Linked DNA regions of Homo sapiens. The protein of the gene in region 1 interacts with the protein of each later gene in a biochemical or structural test. Each region holds a gene or a part of one and is shown on either strand. Other genes may lie near its edges.

The links.
Region 2: the proteins of CXCL14 (region 1) and SLAMF6 form a complex in vitro, tested with the Homo sapiens proteins (one large-scale study listed by BioGRID).
Region 3: the proteins of CXCL14 (region 1) and F2R form a complex in vitro, tested with the Homo sapiens proteins (one large-scale study listed by BioGRID).
Region 4: the proteins of CXCL14 (region 1) and CCL28 form a complex in vitro, tested with the Homo sapiens proteins (one large-scale study listed by BioGRID and IntAct).

Annotation. Positions count from the first base shown.
Region 1 is NC_000005.10:135,576,192-135,580,444, reverse strand, and holds the start of CXCL14 (C-X-C motif chemokine 14 precursor), read left to right. Parts: upstream 1-1,453; 5' UTR 1,454-1,666; coding exon 1,667-1,730; intron 1,731-1,905; coding exon 1,906-2,011; intron 2,012-4,253. UniProt on the Homo sapiens protein: Potent chemoattractant for neutrophils, and weaker for dendritic cells. Not chemotactic for T-cells, B-cells, monocytes, natural killer cells or granulocytes. Does not inhibit proliferation of myeloid progenitors in colony formation assays.
Region 2 is NC_000001.11:160,495,756-160,499,255, forward strand, and holds part of SLAMF6 (SLAM family member 6 isoform 1 precursor), read right to left. Parts: exon of another isoform or gene 821-3,500; intron 639-820; coding exon 306-638; intron 1-305. UniProt on the Homo sapiens protein: Self-ligand receptor of the signaling lymphocytic activation molecule (SLAM) family.
Region 3 is NC_000005.10:76,722,626-76,726,125, forward strand, and holds part of F2R (proteinase-activated receptor 1 isoform 1 precursor), read left to right. Parts: intron 1-3,500. UniProt on the Homo sapiens protein: High affinity receptor that binds the activated thrombin, leading to calcium release from intracellular stores.
Region 4 is NC_000005.10:43,409,592-43,413,530, reverse strand, and holds the start of CCL28 (C-C motif chemokine 28 isoform a precursor), read left to right. Parts: upstream 1-1,139; 5' UTR 1,140-1,214; coding exon 1,215-1,278; intron 1,279-3,939. UniProt on the Homo sapiens protein: Chemotactic activity for resting CD4, CD8 T-cells and eosinophils. Binds to CCR3 and CCR10 and induces calcium mobilization in a dose-dependent manner.

The sequences.
Region 1 (4,253 bases):
GAAGCCCTCTGGGCATTTTTGCCTCCAGGGAACTGCCAGGCTGATGGCATAGAGCTGGGTGAGCTCTCTCCTGACAGCCAAGCCCAGGGACTCCAAGAGCTTGAGATGATCCACCTCCTGTCTCTGGGTCTCTCAAGGCAGCAAGAAGTGAAGGGCAGACAGGCCTCAAAGCAACAGAGTGGTCCAGGGACAGGAGTCCCAGTTCTGCAGCCGTATATACTGAGGACCCTCCTGGCCTAGTCACCTGCTTCCTAGCTCTGTGACCTTGGACAAGTTATTTCTTCTCTCAGAGCATGTTTCCACACCTGTCAAATAAAGAAATTAAAAGTACCAACTTGGAAGAAAAGTACCAATTGGTAAGAATCAAAGTAATAGATAAATTAGACATAAAACGATGGTGCCAATAAGTAACATTTCCTGGGTACTGACAACATGTATGATTTCTATAGTTCTCACAGCCACCCTATCAGAAACACTGTGATGATCTGCACTTTACAGATGATGAAACAAAAGCTGAGAGCGGTAAAGTCACTTGTGCTGGAAAGTAGTGAGGAGGGAATTTCTGCCACTATGGCTGGGCTCACACCACTATACCTCGCATTCTGGCACAATGTCTAGAACATGGGAAGGCCTTCATCCAGATGGTTACCACTGTCATCGCTCTCCACTAGGGCTCTCTACCTGGCTTTGGAGAGTAGTGTGAGAGTGAGGACTCCTCCTGGTTCTCCCCACCACCCAGACACTCACACAGCCACCAGGCCACTGACCCACTTTAAGGAGCTTTCCTTTGGGAGTCACCAAAACTCCTCCCCAATACCCGTCCCCACCCCCGCATACACACACATACCCTCTTTGAGTCAGTTCCAGTGATCACAGTCAATGACTTTGCTGCTGGACAGTCTATGACAAGCCCCTGTCCAGAACTGGCCTTGTGTTCTGGCCCAGCAGGGGCCCTTGGGGGTCAGGCCTGCAGGCACTCACACTTGGCACCTGCTCCAAAACCCTTTCAGGTCTTTGAGGATCTGAGCCCTGGGCCTGGGTCTCCCGCCGGCTCGGAAAAGCTGGCCTGCCGGGCCAGAGAGAGAACCACACGATTCAGAAAAGCAGTGCCCTTCAGCAGCCTCTCCACCGTCTGGGCTCCCCAAAGGCAGAGCGGGACGCTGGAAATGTGTGCGCGCTGTGGTATGGGTGTGCAAGTGTGCGAAGGCGGCGTGTTGTGTGAGCGAGAGGGTAGCGGATGTGTGTGTGCGTGTGCGCGCGTGGCTCCGGGTGTGCGCCGCTGCGATAGCGGGTCCTTTCCCGGGGCGGGCGACGGGCGGGCTGGGAAGGTCTCCTCCCCTCACCACATTGAGAAATCTCAGTGAGTCACCGAGTGGTTCTGCATATTAATGAGCTCGCTCGCTGCGAGGGCAGGAGCGGATTTAAAAGAGGCCAGGGCGGGCGGAGGGAGGCTGTGGAGAGAGCGCGGAGACAAGCGCAGAGCGCAGCGCACGGCCACAGACAGCCCTGGGCATCCACCGACGGCGCAGCCGGAGCCAGCAGAGCCGGAAGGCGCGCCCCGGGCAGAGAAAGCCGAGCAGAGCTGGGTGGCGTCTCCGGGCCGCCGCTCCGACGGGCCAGCGCCCTCCCCATGTCCCTGCTCCCACGCCGCGCCCCTCCGGTCAGCATGAGGCTCCTGGCGGCCGCGCTGCTCCTGCTGCTGCTGGCGCTGTACACCGCGCGTGTGGACGGTGAGTGCGGGGAGCTCCCCTTGTCGCCGTCTCGTCTTGTCCTGTCCTGGGGAACCCAAGCGCCAATTTCTAGGCATCCTGGGATCCCGCGGGGGGTGGTCTGGGTGGGCACCAAGGTGGTCGAGGGGCAGGAGACCGCCTAGCAACTAAGCCGTTGCCCCGCGCTCGCTCGCAGGGTCCAAATGCAAGTGCTCCCGGAAGGGACCCAAGATCCGCTACAGCGACGTGAAGAAGCTGGAAATGAAGCCAAAGTACCCGCACTGCGAGGAGAAGATGGTTATGTGAGTTCTCGCTCCTCACCTTGAGGGGGTGCGCACTGCTGTCAACCCAATGCCAGGGCACAGCCTGGGCCTGGGTCGGGCTAACAAACATTTCTCTCCGACTTTGTCAAGGCCCTGGAAAAGCCTTTGTAATTGCCCAGAGAGTCCTTAGGACGCTGGCGAGACACTCTGGAAGACAGTCGGGAAGGGGGGTCACTGTCCCGCTCCGGAACAGCGCCTCCAAGTTCACCCTTGCTAGGATTCAAATGAGCAGTCTCCCTATTTGTACCATGGGCCACCCACTCTGCTAGGGCCATCAAGGGTTAAAGGGTTCCCTTGTGCCAACTCAGAAAACCTAGACTGAAATCACTTAAAACACACTCACACCCAAACTGTGAGGCGTGCTGCCTTCCTGTCACTGGATAGAGGACTAATGCAAACACTATCTTAAATCCTGAGTCTCCTTCAGAGCCTTGTTCCAGTCAGAGACAAGTGGACCGCAAGTTTTTGGCTCCTAGAGATTTTATTTTGAGAACGCTCCACGAGCTTCCCTCACCGACTGTACTCCTTGTGGGTCCCCAATACGGAGCAGTACTGCAGAAAGTGCTCTGCTGGGGTTAATGTGCCACATGGCTGGAGCCCTGCTTGGTGGGGATGTGGGGAATGTTGGAAAAACTGGGGCAGAGTGAGAGAACACTTAGTTTCTTGCTCCTCCGCCTTCCCAATTAACCACTTGAGGCCAGCACCGCTGCCTCCTCATCAATATGCTCTTGGCCAGGAAGGGAGCCCTTGGCAAAGCGGCTACCAAATATTTGCCACAGACCATTGGCCCCTCTTCCCCTCCCCCAGAAACAGGACGCACTTTATTCTCAGTCTGGGCAAGTGCCCTCCACCAGCTGGCCCCCACCGGCGCAAAGGCCTTCACAGTGTCTGCGAAAGCAGTGCACACCCCTACCCAGCACCCCCCATCCCCGTCTAGGGGCTACACTGTCAGGCTGAAATTAGGGGAATTCAGAAATCCACTGGAACTGAGCTGACCCCACTGCCTTCCTTCACAGACACCTAAATTAACTTGCTTGTCCCTACCCCTTGCCTTGCAGACCAAATTCAAAGAAAATACCCAAAAATCCTTTTGGGTGGGGGCCAAGTGTCAAATGAGCTGGGAAAGGAGCTCCAAGCTCCTCAGGGCTTCCAGTTTGGGGGCTAAGAATGACAGGGGAATTCCAAGTTAAATCTCACTCGTCTAAGAGCTGAAAACCACTCTATTAACCAAACAAGTTTCTGAGACCTTGCAGGGGAAGAAAGCAGGGTAAAGGATGCAGTGATACCTAAAAAGGACAGAGCCCTCAGTAAATAGGCTTGCTCTTTTCCTGGCTAAACTTTTCCACATATAGAGAAAAACTATAGCTAGGCAAGTGTGAGAAAGGCTTTACGGAGCCTTGTAGAAACGTGCAGGGGCCTCAGGAGATCAGCACACAATCCAATCACCCTCTACTAAACCTCTAACCCACCCCCTAGGGCCTCCCACTCCATCCCTGAGGGCTGGGGGCTCCTCTCCCCCTCCACAATCCTAAAACTCTCCAAATCAGATGAGGGGCCAGCACTTTTGCAAAGCAGGTTTTCAGCCACAAAGGCTGAACAAAAGCAAATTTTCCAGCTTACCCTGAGTCACCCAGAAATCTCTGCTGAGGCTGGGGGTGGGGGCAGGAGTAGGGGCGGGGGGAGAGGTCCGCTTTGCAAGTGGGAGTCCTTGCACCCAGAAGGATCCAGGAGAGTCCGAATTCTAGAAAGAGCAATTTGTGTCATAGGTCCATGGAGCTCTCACCAAAACCCTTACCCCCACCGCCAGAACTGTGGAGGAGAGGGTCACAGGACTCAGAATTTCTGATAGTTGCTGGAGTCACAAATCCCTATGTCTGCACTCCACAACCGATTTTCATAATCCCAGTATTATGACGTGGCATTTGAGCACTGTAGTGAGAGGGCTGAGTGACCCTTCCTGCTCTCCCTTCCTGCTCTCCCTGACCTTCAGGATTTGGGATGCACAGCCTGCACACTGACCTAACTGAGAAAGGGTTTTTATCAGGCATTACCACGTCCTTTCCTTCAGAATGCTAAAGCAGCCTTGTAGGCAGAAAGAGAAAAGCATTTGCTAAATTCCTGCAGGGTGACTGGGCACAGTGGGGGAGAGAGACAACCAGAGTTCACTCTGAAGCCTGGCCTGTGCTCAAGGCTAGAGGAATGACCCGGAGTCACAGAGGAG
Region 2 (3,500 bases), on another chromosome or scaffold:
TACATGTAGTGCACAAGGCAACACTATCATAAATATTTGACTTCCATTACTTCTGCTACATTTCTGGTTGAAGAAGACCATTTTATCGGAGTGAAGTAATTCTGGGCTGGGACACAAGACTTAGGCTCTGTCTTCAGCTCTGTCATTAACTGGCTTTGCAGTGTCATTGTGTTGACACTGACTCAATGACTCCAAATGCCATATTCTTTACCACTAGGCGACAGTGCACATTTGAAGTCACATAGGATTGGAATACATGTATATTTTTCAGTCCATATGGAATTAAACCCCATATTTTGACTTACTTAATATCCTCAGAGTGTAACTGGACAGCTTTGCAGAGGTCTTTGTGGATATCTGGGCTCTGTAAGAGCCTGTGTCTTCCATCTTCAGGTTGCTGAGTTGCAGGGAGTAGGACTGGGTGAAGTTCAGTCGCTTTCCCTGTTTCGGATTAGTCACGTGGATTTCTGGACTTTTGGTTTCATGGGGTACTATGAAGGCAAGAGATGTTTCATTGAAAAGCCAAGTGATGAAGTTGACCTTCTCTCCTGCAGGAAACTCCAGGGGAAGAGTTACTGACTCCCCCAGAATCCCGTTCACCATCAATGGGGTTAAGCTGCTTTGTGAAACTACATTCCCTGTAAACACAGAAGGAAAGGTTTTAAAAATGTTCCTGACCATCTCCCTGCCAAGTCCTGCACCCTTTCACCTAACGCTGCCAGTCTGTTAGAGCTCTCTGATACCAAAACTCAGAGATATGACAGAGTAGGAAAGGGTAGGAGATGTTTCTAAATGAATAATCACAGTCCCAGAGCTTCACCTCCAGCAAAATGTCAGCCACTCTTGGTTAGTAGGCAGCTAGTCTAGATGAAACCGGCCCAGTCCACGCTGGGTCCTACACTGGCTGGTCACTCCTAGGTCATAACTATACTTTGTGATCCTAGCCTCTGAAGTCCTTGGACATTAGGTTGAGGGGGACAGGAAACTATAGACTCCAAAAACTGCAAGTCTTTGCTAATAAAGCATAATTAAAGCCTGATATTTACTGATTACTTACTGTGTGTCCAACATAGTAGGCTTGTGCAACTTAGAAGGCTGGTAACAGGGACTAATATCAGGGATTTATAGGATAGTCAGTTCTTCTTATATATTATTTCATTGACGCTGACTACAGTCTGTGAGGCAGGCAGGATGGATATTATTACTTCCATTTATAGATAAAGGAACTGAGCTACAGAAAAGTTAACTAATTTTCCCAGGGTTGCACAGCTAAAGAATAGCAGAGTCAGGATTCAAACCCAGGTCTTCTGACTCCAGTGACTTTGTGCTGTCTTCATGATACCAGAAGATTTTTTTTTAATTCTCTCAGAAAGATTATAGTTTAGTTATTGAGGAGACAAAATGGATACATATAGAAATAATAAATATAATTTCAAAGTAACACATGATGGCCACATTCTTGTGAACTTATTCAGAACTATCAATGTTTAAGCAAAAACGGTGAAATGGTCACAATGATTCTTAAAGAAGATGCTTCCTTAGCATCCTTTCCCAAATTCTTAGCAATTATTACACTATTTTGTAGTTTTGTTCACCTGTTTGTCTAACTGACCACGCCTTAATTAGCCTTGCATGTCAGTACTCAGCACCATGTCTGACACATAGTAGAGTCTGTGGAAATGTTCTAGTGGGTCAATGAATGAATAACTATAACAATTACCTCAACCTTCTCAGGATCTCTTGCTTCTTTTTCTTAAAAATTTCAACTTTTATTTTAGATATGGGGGTACATGTGCAGATTTGTTACATGGGTATATCACACCCAGATAGTGGACATAATAACTAATAGGTAGTTATTCAACCCATTACCTGTTCCCTTCCTTCCCCCTCTAGTAGTCCACAGCGTCTATTAATCCCATATTTATGTCCATGTGTGCTCAGTGTTTAGCTCCCACTTATAAGTGAGAGCATGTAGTATTTGGTTTTCTGTTCCTGTGTTGGTGTGCTAGGATTATGGCCTCCAGCTCCACCCGTGTTACTGCAAAAGACATGATTTAATTCTTTTTTATGGCTGGTTAGTATTCCATGGTGTATATATACCAAATTTTCTTTATCCAATCCATCATTGATTGGAACCTAGGTTGATTCTGTGTCTTTGCTATTATGAATAGCATAGTATGAACATACAAGTGCATGTGTCTTTTTGGTATAATGATCTATTTTCCTTTGGCTATATACCCAGTAATGGGATTGCTGGGTTGAATGGTAGCTCAGTTTTAAGTTTTTTGAAAAATCTCCAAACTGCTTTCCACAGTGAAAATTTATATTTCCCAATAACAGTGTATAACTGTTTCCTTTTCTCTGCAACCTCACCAAGTGGGACCTAGCACCTGTTTTTTTTTTATTTTTTGACTTTTAATAATAGACATTCTGAAAGAATGAAGGGTCCAGTTTCAATCTTCTGCATATGGCTATACAAAAATACAAAAAAGTGTATTAGTGTATTCTGAATTTTCTGTTCTCTTCCAGCTGTCATTCTGACAGAATGGCTATTATTAAAAAGTCAAAAAAGTGTTATTTGTCCATTTTCACACTGCTGATAAAGACATACTCAAGACTAGTAATTTATAAAGGAAAGATGTTTAATTGACTCACAGTTCCCCATGGCTGGGGAGGCCATGGCACTCACAAGCATGGTGGAAGGTGAAGGAGGAGCAAAGTCACGTCTTACATGGTGGCAGGCAAAGAGAACATGTGCAGGGGAACTCCCCTTTATAAAACCATCAGAACTCATGAGACTTATTCACTATCATGAGAATAGCACAGGAAAGACCTACCCCCAGATTCAATTACCTCCTACCAGGTCCCTCCCATGACATGTGGGAATAATGGGAGCTCTACAGTTCAAGATGAGATTTGGGTGGGGACACAATCAAACCATATCAAAAACCAAACCAGCATCTATTGTGTTCTTTTTTTTGACTTTTTAATAATAGCCATTCTGACTGGTGTGAGATGGTATTTCATTGTGGTTTTGATTTGGATTTCTCTGATGATTACTGATGCTGAGCATTTTTTCATGTTTGCTGAGTGCTTGTATATCTTCATTTAAGAAGTGCCTGTTCATGTCCTTTGCCCATTTTTTAATGGGGTTATTCGTCTTTTTGCTTATTGGTTTAAGCTCCTTATAGATTCTGGATATTAGACCTTATGTTGGGTACATAGTTTGCAAATATTTTCTCTCATTCTGTAAGATGTCTGTTTACGGTAATGATAGTTTCTTTTGCTGTGCAGAAGCTCTATAGTTTACTTAGGTTCCACTTGTCAATTTTCGTTTTTGTTGCAATTGCTTTTGGGGACCTAGCCAAAAATTCTTTGCCAAGGCCAGTGTCAAGAAGGGTATTTCCTATTTTTTTCTAGGATTTTTATAGCTTGAGGTTTTACATTTAAATATTTGATCCATCTTGAGTTAATTTTCGTATATGGTTAAAGGTAAGGGT
Region 3 (3,500 bases), about 59 Mb from region 1:
TGGCAGCTTCTTCTGAACCCCAGTCAGTCAAGAATTCTACCTTTAGGTTGGGCACGGTGGCTCATGCCTGTAATCCCAGCACTTTGGGAGGCTGAGGCGCAGATCACTTAAGGTCAGGAGTTGGAGACCAGCTTGGCCAACATGGTGAAACCCTGTCTCTACTAAAAATACAAAAATTAGCCGGGCATGGTGGTGCACAACTGTCATCCCAGCTACTCAGGAGGCTGAGGCAGGAGAATCTCTTGAACCCAGGAGGCAGAGGTTGCAGCAAGCCAAGATCGTGCCACTGCACTCCAGCCTGGGAGACAGAGTGAGACTCTGTATCAAAAAAAAAAAAAAGAATTTTGTCTTTAATTCTGCTTTTTCTGTAGCAGAGATTTTTGTTCACTTACTGCTCTTGCATCTGCTCCATCTAGAACAGTGTTTTAAAGATGTATTTTTCTGTTTTGTCCTTGAATATCTCCCTGCTATCTCTCTCCTGTGTGTAAGGACCAAGTTGTTGGCATGTGTGGTTGGTGTGCAGCCAAAGTCAGTAGGACTCCAGAATTCCCAAGCTTTGGGCATCATCACGTTAAGCTAGCCATTCACATGTCCACATACTGCCTACTGTAGCTAAAAGGATGGGCAGATTCATTTGTTTGGTGACATGCAAAGAGAAAAAGATGGTACTCTTTTAGAAGTAGGTCATGAATCACAAGTTTTTAAGGAGAGAATAGCGTGGAGTGGTCAAAAGGTATGACCTTTGGAGCTGGGCAGACCTAGGTTCAAACCCTGGCTCCTCTACTTCATAGCTGTGTGACTTTGGATTAGTTACTTAGCCTCTCTGTGCCTCCATGTTGTCATTTATAAAATGGTAGTTATAATGCTCATGTCATAGAAATGTTAGAATTATATGAACTAAGGCAAGTGAAGTATCTGGCACATAGTAGGTGCTCAAAAAGATGGTAAGGTTTTTTCATACACCAATGCTTCCATATTCCAGAAAAGCTTTTGAAGAGTTGATACCAAATAAATTATCTAAATATAAGACAATCTTCACACAAGCATGCAAGAACATTTTCCCCTTCAGAACTAGGACAAAAGAAAAAAGCAAAAACCCTTGCCCTTAACTTCTAGTGGCAAATAAACATGCATACAGTATTTGTTTGTTTTTTTAACTTTTATTATGGGATTTTTCAAACATACCCAAAAATGAACAGTATAGTTACTCCCCATACCCATCATCCAGCTTCAACATTATTTACATGTCACCAATCTTGTTTTATCTAAACCCTCAAGTTTCCTCCTCTCCCAACTGTATAATTTTAAAGCAAATCCCAGATATCATATTATGTCATTCATAAAAACATCAGTAAGCATCCTTAGAGATTAGAACTCTTTTTTCCACATAACCACAATACAATTATAATACCTAAAAAATGAACATTTCCTTCTGTTTTTTTGTTTGTTTGTTTGTTTTGAGACACATTCTTACTCTGTTGCTAAGGCTGGAGTTCAGTAGCACAATCATGGCTCATCCACAGTCTCAACCTCCTGGGCTCAAGCAATCCTCCTGCCTCAGACTCCAAAGTAGCTGGGACTACAGGCACACACCACCACGACCAGCTAATTTTTGTATTTATTTTAATAGACATAGGATTTTGCTGCATTGCCCAGGCTGGTCTGGAACTCCTGGGTTCAATCAGTCCTCCTGCCTCGGCTTCCCGAAGTGCTGGCATTACAGGCGTGAGCCACCGTGCCCGGCCTAACAATTCCTTAATATCATCTGATAATCAGTCAGTGTTCATATTTACCTTATTGTCTCATAAATACCTTTTAACAGTTGGTTTGTTTGAATCAGGTTCAAACAAGGTCCACCATTACATTTTAATCTGTAACTGCCCCCCCACCCCTTTTTTATTGCTATTTATTTGTCAAAGAAACTAAGCCATCTGTCTTAGTTCTTATTTGTCAAAGAAACTAAGCCATCTGTCTTTTCTACATACTGGATCTGGCTGACTGCGTCTTCAACTCATGGATCTTAACATGTATGAAATGTTTCAATTCATTTCCATCATTATTCTTTTGATGGTCAAATTGGTGATCAACATGTCACATCTTTGGTCAGTGGGAGCCCTTTGAGATTGACTCCAGCGTCTTTTTGACCTAACCCTGATATTCTTTGAAGATGTTCAATGTTCATCTTGTGTATTTCCTACCCCAGATCTGGAACTAGTCATTTCTTTAAGAAGCCCCAGTTCTTTTCATTGGAAAATGGTGTTTGTTTGAATCTGAGGGAGTAAAACATTCCAGTAATGCTGGTGTTTTCCACTTGACAGAGTTAGTGTGATTCTGTTATTTTCCTGTCCTCCTCTTCATTTCTCTTTAGCCTGTAGTGTTGTTTCAACTCTTGTGCTCTGTGTGGGAATGTGAGCAAAGTCCTGGGACTTCTGCTTTGTTAACTCTGAAAAAGCATGAGCCCCGAAGGGCAGAACTGTGAGTCAAAACCATGTGTGTCATGGAATGCTGGTGTGGTATAAATCCCAGGATCAAATGCGACATTCAGAGATCCTCTAGTCACCCCTCTGCTTCCAGGACAGATCTCATCACAGTCAGAAAACGTGTTGCCTAACTCACTAATTTTTAAAAATCGCCACAGTTAAAGAGTCCGTATTTAAACTATTTAATAATTTGCTGTATTCGATAACAAAACTACTCTAGAGCAATTTAGAAGAGCCTAAATTAAGTGAAACTTAGCAAATCGTATGAGAACTGAATTCAGGACCTCTGCTGCCTTTTTTGTGAAACCATAGCTTAACCAAAAAAAAAAACAGAGATGAATGATAAGAGATTTGGGCACCTTCACAAGCACTTTCTCCTTGACCTGAGTTGTGCTAGGACTGGAGGAAAAGCGAGATACTTAAACTCAAATTTCAGCCTAAGGGTCTTGAGCTAGTTGGAATTGTCTAGTCACCTTGCATTGGTTTTGTCCTTTCTTTGATGCTGGTATATACTACATTTTTTCTTTTCTTTTTTTTTCCGACATTCTTTAATTTCACAAAAACCAGAATATCAAACCCATAGTATCAAGAAAAGGTAACACCTTAGGCAGCGATATTTAACCAAGGGATTATACATTCTTCCTGAGCTCTAGCCTATAAAAATTTCATGTTTCCACAAGTATAATGTTCCTGTCGGAAGTACCGTCTGCCTGAGGCCTACCCAGAGAAGATGTTTTTTAAAACAAGTACTTACTGCCTAAGTACTAAATACAGAGTAAAGTCTAGTGACAGTTTTATTTTCAGACTAAGTGATAGTATCTGAAGAGCTTAGTTGTATTTATTAGTTTTCACATTGTGTCAGTCTCTCAGGTGTCATCTTGATTCATGTATGTAAGTATGCATGTTCATGTCCACTTTTTCCCCTCTGTGCATCACAAAAGCCCATAATCTGGCCAGGCTTCCAAAACTGCAGAGGAGAATTGCATTATTTTAAGGTTCCTTGGCCAGGTGCAGTGGCTT
Region 4 (3,939 bases), about 92 Mb from region 1:
ACATTGTCCATTAGGCCCTATCTCCCAGCACTATTAGGGATTAATTTTCAACATGAGCTTTGGAGAAGAAAAAAATATTCAAACCACAGCAGTAATTTGAAAACATAAAAAGAAATGGGTGAAATTAATTTTAATAATATATTTTATTTAACCCAAAAAGTCCAAAATACTATCATGTAATCAATAAACAGTATAAACATTATTAACAAGATATTTTATATTTTTTTCTGTACCCAGTCTTTGAAATCCAGTGTGAATTTTATACCCATAGTACATCTGAGTTTGGACTACTCATATTTCAAGTGCTCAAGAGCCACATGTGGGCTAGCGGCTACCACATAGGACAACACAGTTCTAGAGGAAGCATGGCATGACTTTGGAGGTCATCTAGTCTGACTTGTTATTTACAGCAAAGTTAAGTACGTTGCCTGAGGTTATACAACTTATTAGTAGATGAGGAACAATTAGAATCCAATTATCTTCATGCTACCCCATGCTTTTATTCACAAAGCTGATTGGCAGCAAAGCTGCACTAGCGCTCATGCCTCTTCACACCTGCTCTTGGGCTCTTTTCTACAAGGCATTGCCCCCCTTCCTGTCTTTCTCCTAAATAAGCTATTGTAAAAAGCTTCACTGGAAACAATTTGGCTGTGAACCAAGACTAAAGTGGGGTTTAATACTTCCATATCTTTCCACAAAGATACATTTTTTATGACTTGTCACCCTTGTCCCCAGAAACTCATGGTTTCCATAAGCTACTTAAAAACTGATTATGCAATGGGTCTCAACATAAGTGTCCATCAGAATCACCTATAGAGCTTTTACAAAATTCAAATGACTGGTCTCCTACCTGGGAGTTCTGGTTTACAAATCAGGGAAAGGGGAGAGTCATTTAGATTGATTTTTTTTAATGTTCCCCAAATGATTCTGATGCACACCCCACCTCACAGTGACCCTGCCAGCTGCCAGATCTCCATTGACATCCCCTGACCCCCAGGCAGGATGAACACAAGTTAGGAGCTTAATAAGTCGAGGAGGAGCCTGGTCTTAAGGAAAGAAACATGAGAAATAGATACCCTGAACACCTCCCAGGGCGGGGCCACCTGGCTTACTTTTCCTCTGCACTTTCTCTGTGCCCAAGGACACCTTTAGCCTCATTTCCTGATCGAACAGCCTCACTTGTGTTGCTGTCAGTGCCAGTAGGGCAGGCAGGAATGCAGCAGAGAGGACTCGCCATCGTGGCCTTGGCTGTCTGTGCGGCCCTACATGCCTCAGAAGGTGAGTGGGGGCACTGGACACTTAGGCCTTCACTGGAAAGGGGGGTATCTCCCAAATCTGTGCTGGAAGGATTGAGGTGGGGCAAGAATATCTATCTCTTCAAGCAGGAATTTCCAATTGATTTCTGATTACCTACAAGAGAATGACATAGCTTTAAATTCTAGATCTCCCAGAAGTTTCAGGAAGGAACCTCATTCTAACAGGCATACTACAAATTTTTGCCACCTGGAGGATGAGGTCCTTCCATGTAGGTACAACTTCGAGCTATGTTTCCTTTTCTGAAGACAGTATCTTAGAAAATCCCCAGCTAGAGGCTGGAGTAAAGCCCCTACTATTCATCTGTCTTCCTCCACACCCCAACCTGCTAAACGGTCTGAACACAACTGTGCACATTCCTGGAGGGAAATACAGACTTGGCCAGCTGCGTTCAAATTAGGTAAGTTGTAAATTTCCTGAGCAAAGTCAGCTCTATGGATACAGAAAACTGAAACTTCAGTCTGACCTTTAAAAAGGGAGGGCAGAGCTGAGCACAGTGGTGCATGCCTGTATTCCCACCTACTTGGGAGGCTACGGCTGGAGGATAGCTTCAGGCCAGGAATTCAAGATTGCAGTGAGCTATGATCACACTGTGAATTGCCACTGCACTCTGAATTGCCACTGCACTCCAGCTTGGGCAACATAGTAAAACCCCATCTGTTAAAAACAAAAAGAGGGGAGGGGAGGGGAAAGAGAAGGAAAGGAAGAAAGGAAAGGAAAGAAAGAAAAAGAAGAAAAGCAGGATGAGGGAGATTGAACCATACAAATTATGTCAAAGAGAATTTAAATCGTGAGTTGCTAGCATGTATTTGGAGATTGTAACTGCATTTGAACTAGAGGGAATCTCTTCTAAAGTAGCACTCACTACTATATTCAGGAAACCCTAAGTGTCAGTACTTAATACTTGACCAATGACTCTTTTCCATTGTCATCTTTTCTTTAAGCTTTATCCTGAACAGATTCTCTAAGTCTAGAGCAGAGGTGGAATATAAGTCTTTGGTCTGCTTTTTAAAAATCTGAGCCAACATTTTAAAACTGAAAGCTTTCTCATGTACATACTCATACATACACACATACAAATTGGATTTTAAAGCTTCTCTTGAGAAATCAGATGTGGCAACAATGATTCCACCATACCATGGCAAGAACTGGCTAAAGCAGATGAGCCTCTGAAGTTTGCTGTATTAACTGCCTGGTCCCTGCAGGCATTTGCTTAGGGACTCCCAATATAGTCCGTCAATGTACTGGGCTTATACAAATAAGCAACAGAAAAAACCTGGACAATCTCTTCTCAATTTCTACTAATCTATCTATCTTATCAATATAAAGACAAAAATTTGTCACTTTATGTTTCTGTAACATTTCTCAGAAAAATTCACCATTGAGATTTGGGGACTCATTTTCACTATTTCTGAAAGGCCTACCTGCTAAGGCTTCACTCCTAGTTCTGGTAATTCCACCAACTCAAATTTTTTACATAAAACTTTGAAATGTGTACCTCCATCCAGCTTCCTGACCTACTCCCACCTGTCCCCACAGCGGCAGCTCTCCTACAGGAAAGGAGGGAGGGAACAGCAGGTCGAGGAGGCAGAGGGTAATGAGGAAGGCTCTGCCATACCCAGGACCCACCTTCACATGGGACTGAGTCCTGGTAGAGACGGTGGGGTGGAACGGCAAAATGCAGAGGTGTGTGAAAAGGTACGGCTGCTGGTGATAATAAGGAAGGGAGCCGAGAGACCCAGCAATAGCCTTTTGGGTTAGTCTCGATGCTTTACCTAAGGCAGTTTAGGCCACAGGAAAATCACATTGCCTGAGAAGCTCCAAACTTCTGTCATTTAAAAATAAGTGATACTGGGTAAAAATACACAAGTAGGCCTGAGAACAGTCGTGGAATAGAGGGGCAACGCCACAGCTATTCTTAACAAACTTCCACTCAAGTGTCCATGTAAGCCAGGTGCCCTGTGGGAGGCACTTAAGTGATTCTGGCTCCAGGGAGGGGGTGGAAAACCAAGTGGGGAGGGAGGAAGGTAGAGAACACTCAACAACTCAACAGTGCAGAGAAGAGGACAGGTGGCCTTGGCAAGGGGAATAGGAAAAAGGCCTGTGCCAGTTTGGAACTTTGGGAAATATATTTTGTTTCCTTGAGGCAGAAAGCTGTTCCCTTATCTTAATGGTGTCTTAAATGGCTATCTTGTTGTGATGGCTCAATAACTGGCATTCCCTAAGTGTTTTGCATAAATCAGGAAGCAGGTGACTTTATCTATAATTAAAAGCCTTGGATTCTGCCCAAAGGTAGGGCACACTCCACCTCTGCTGACGTGGCTGCTGGCTCCCAGAACTCAATACTGAATCCATAAACATGTCTATCATCCTGTTTCGGTGGCCCTGAGCCTGATTATTTAAACCCACAATCTAGGACTTTGTGGGCCTGGCTGTTTTATTGTACATTAAGATTAAGGCTCACTTGTGCCCAGCAGATTCAAGTTAGGAGGTTTTGCTGCAGTGAGTCCCAAATTGCCTTCCCACTGACAACCTTCTTTCTCAGAGTACAATGGCTACTGAATCACACCAATACTTGCTAGAGATTTGCTGCTTGCATCCTAAAACGTTTACCTTTTGTTTTAA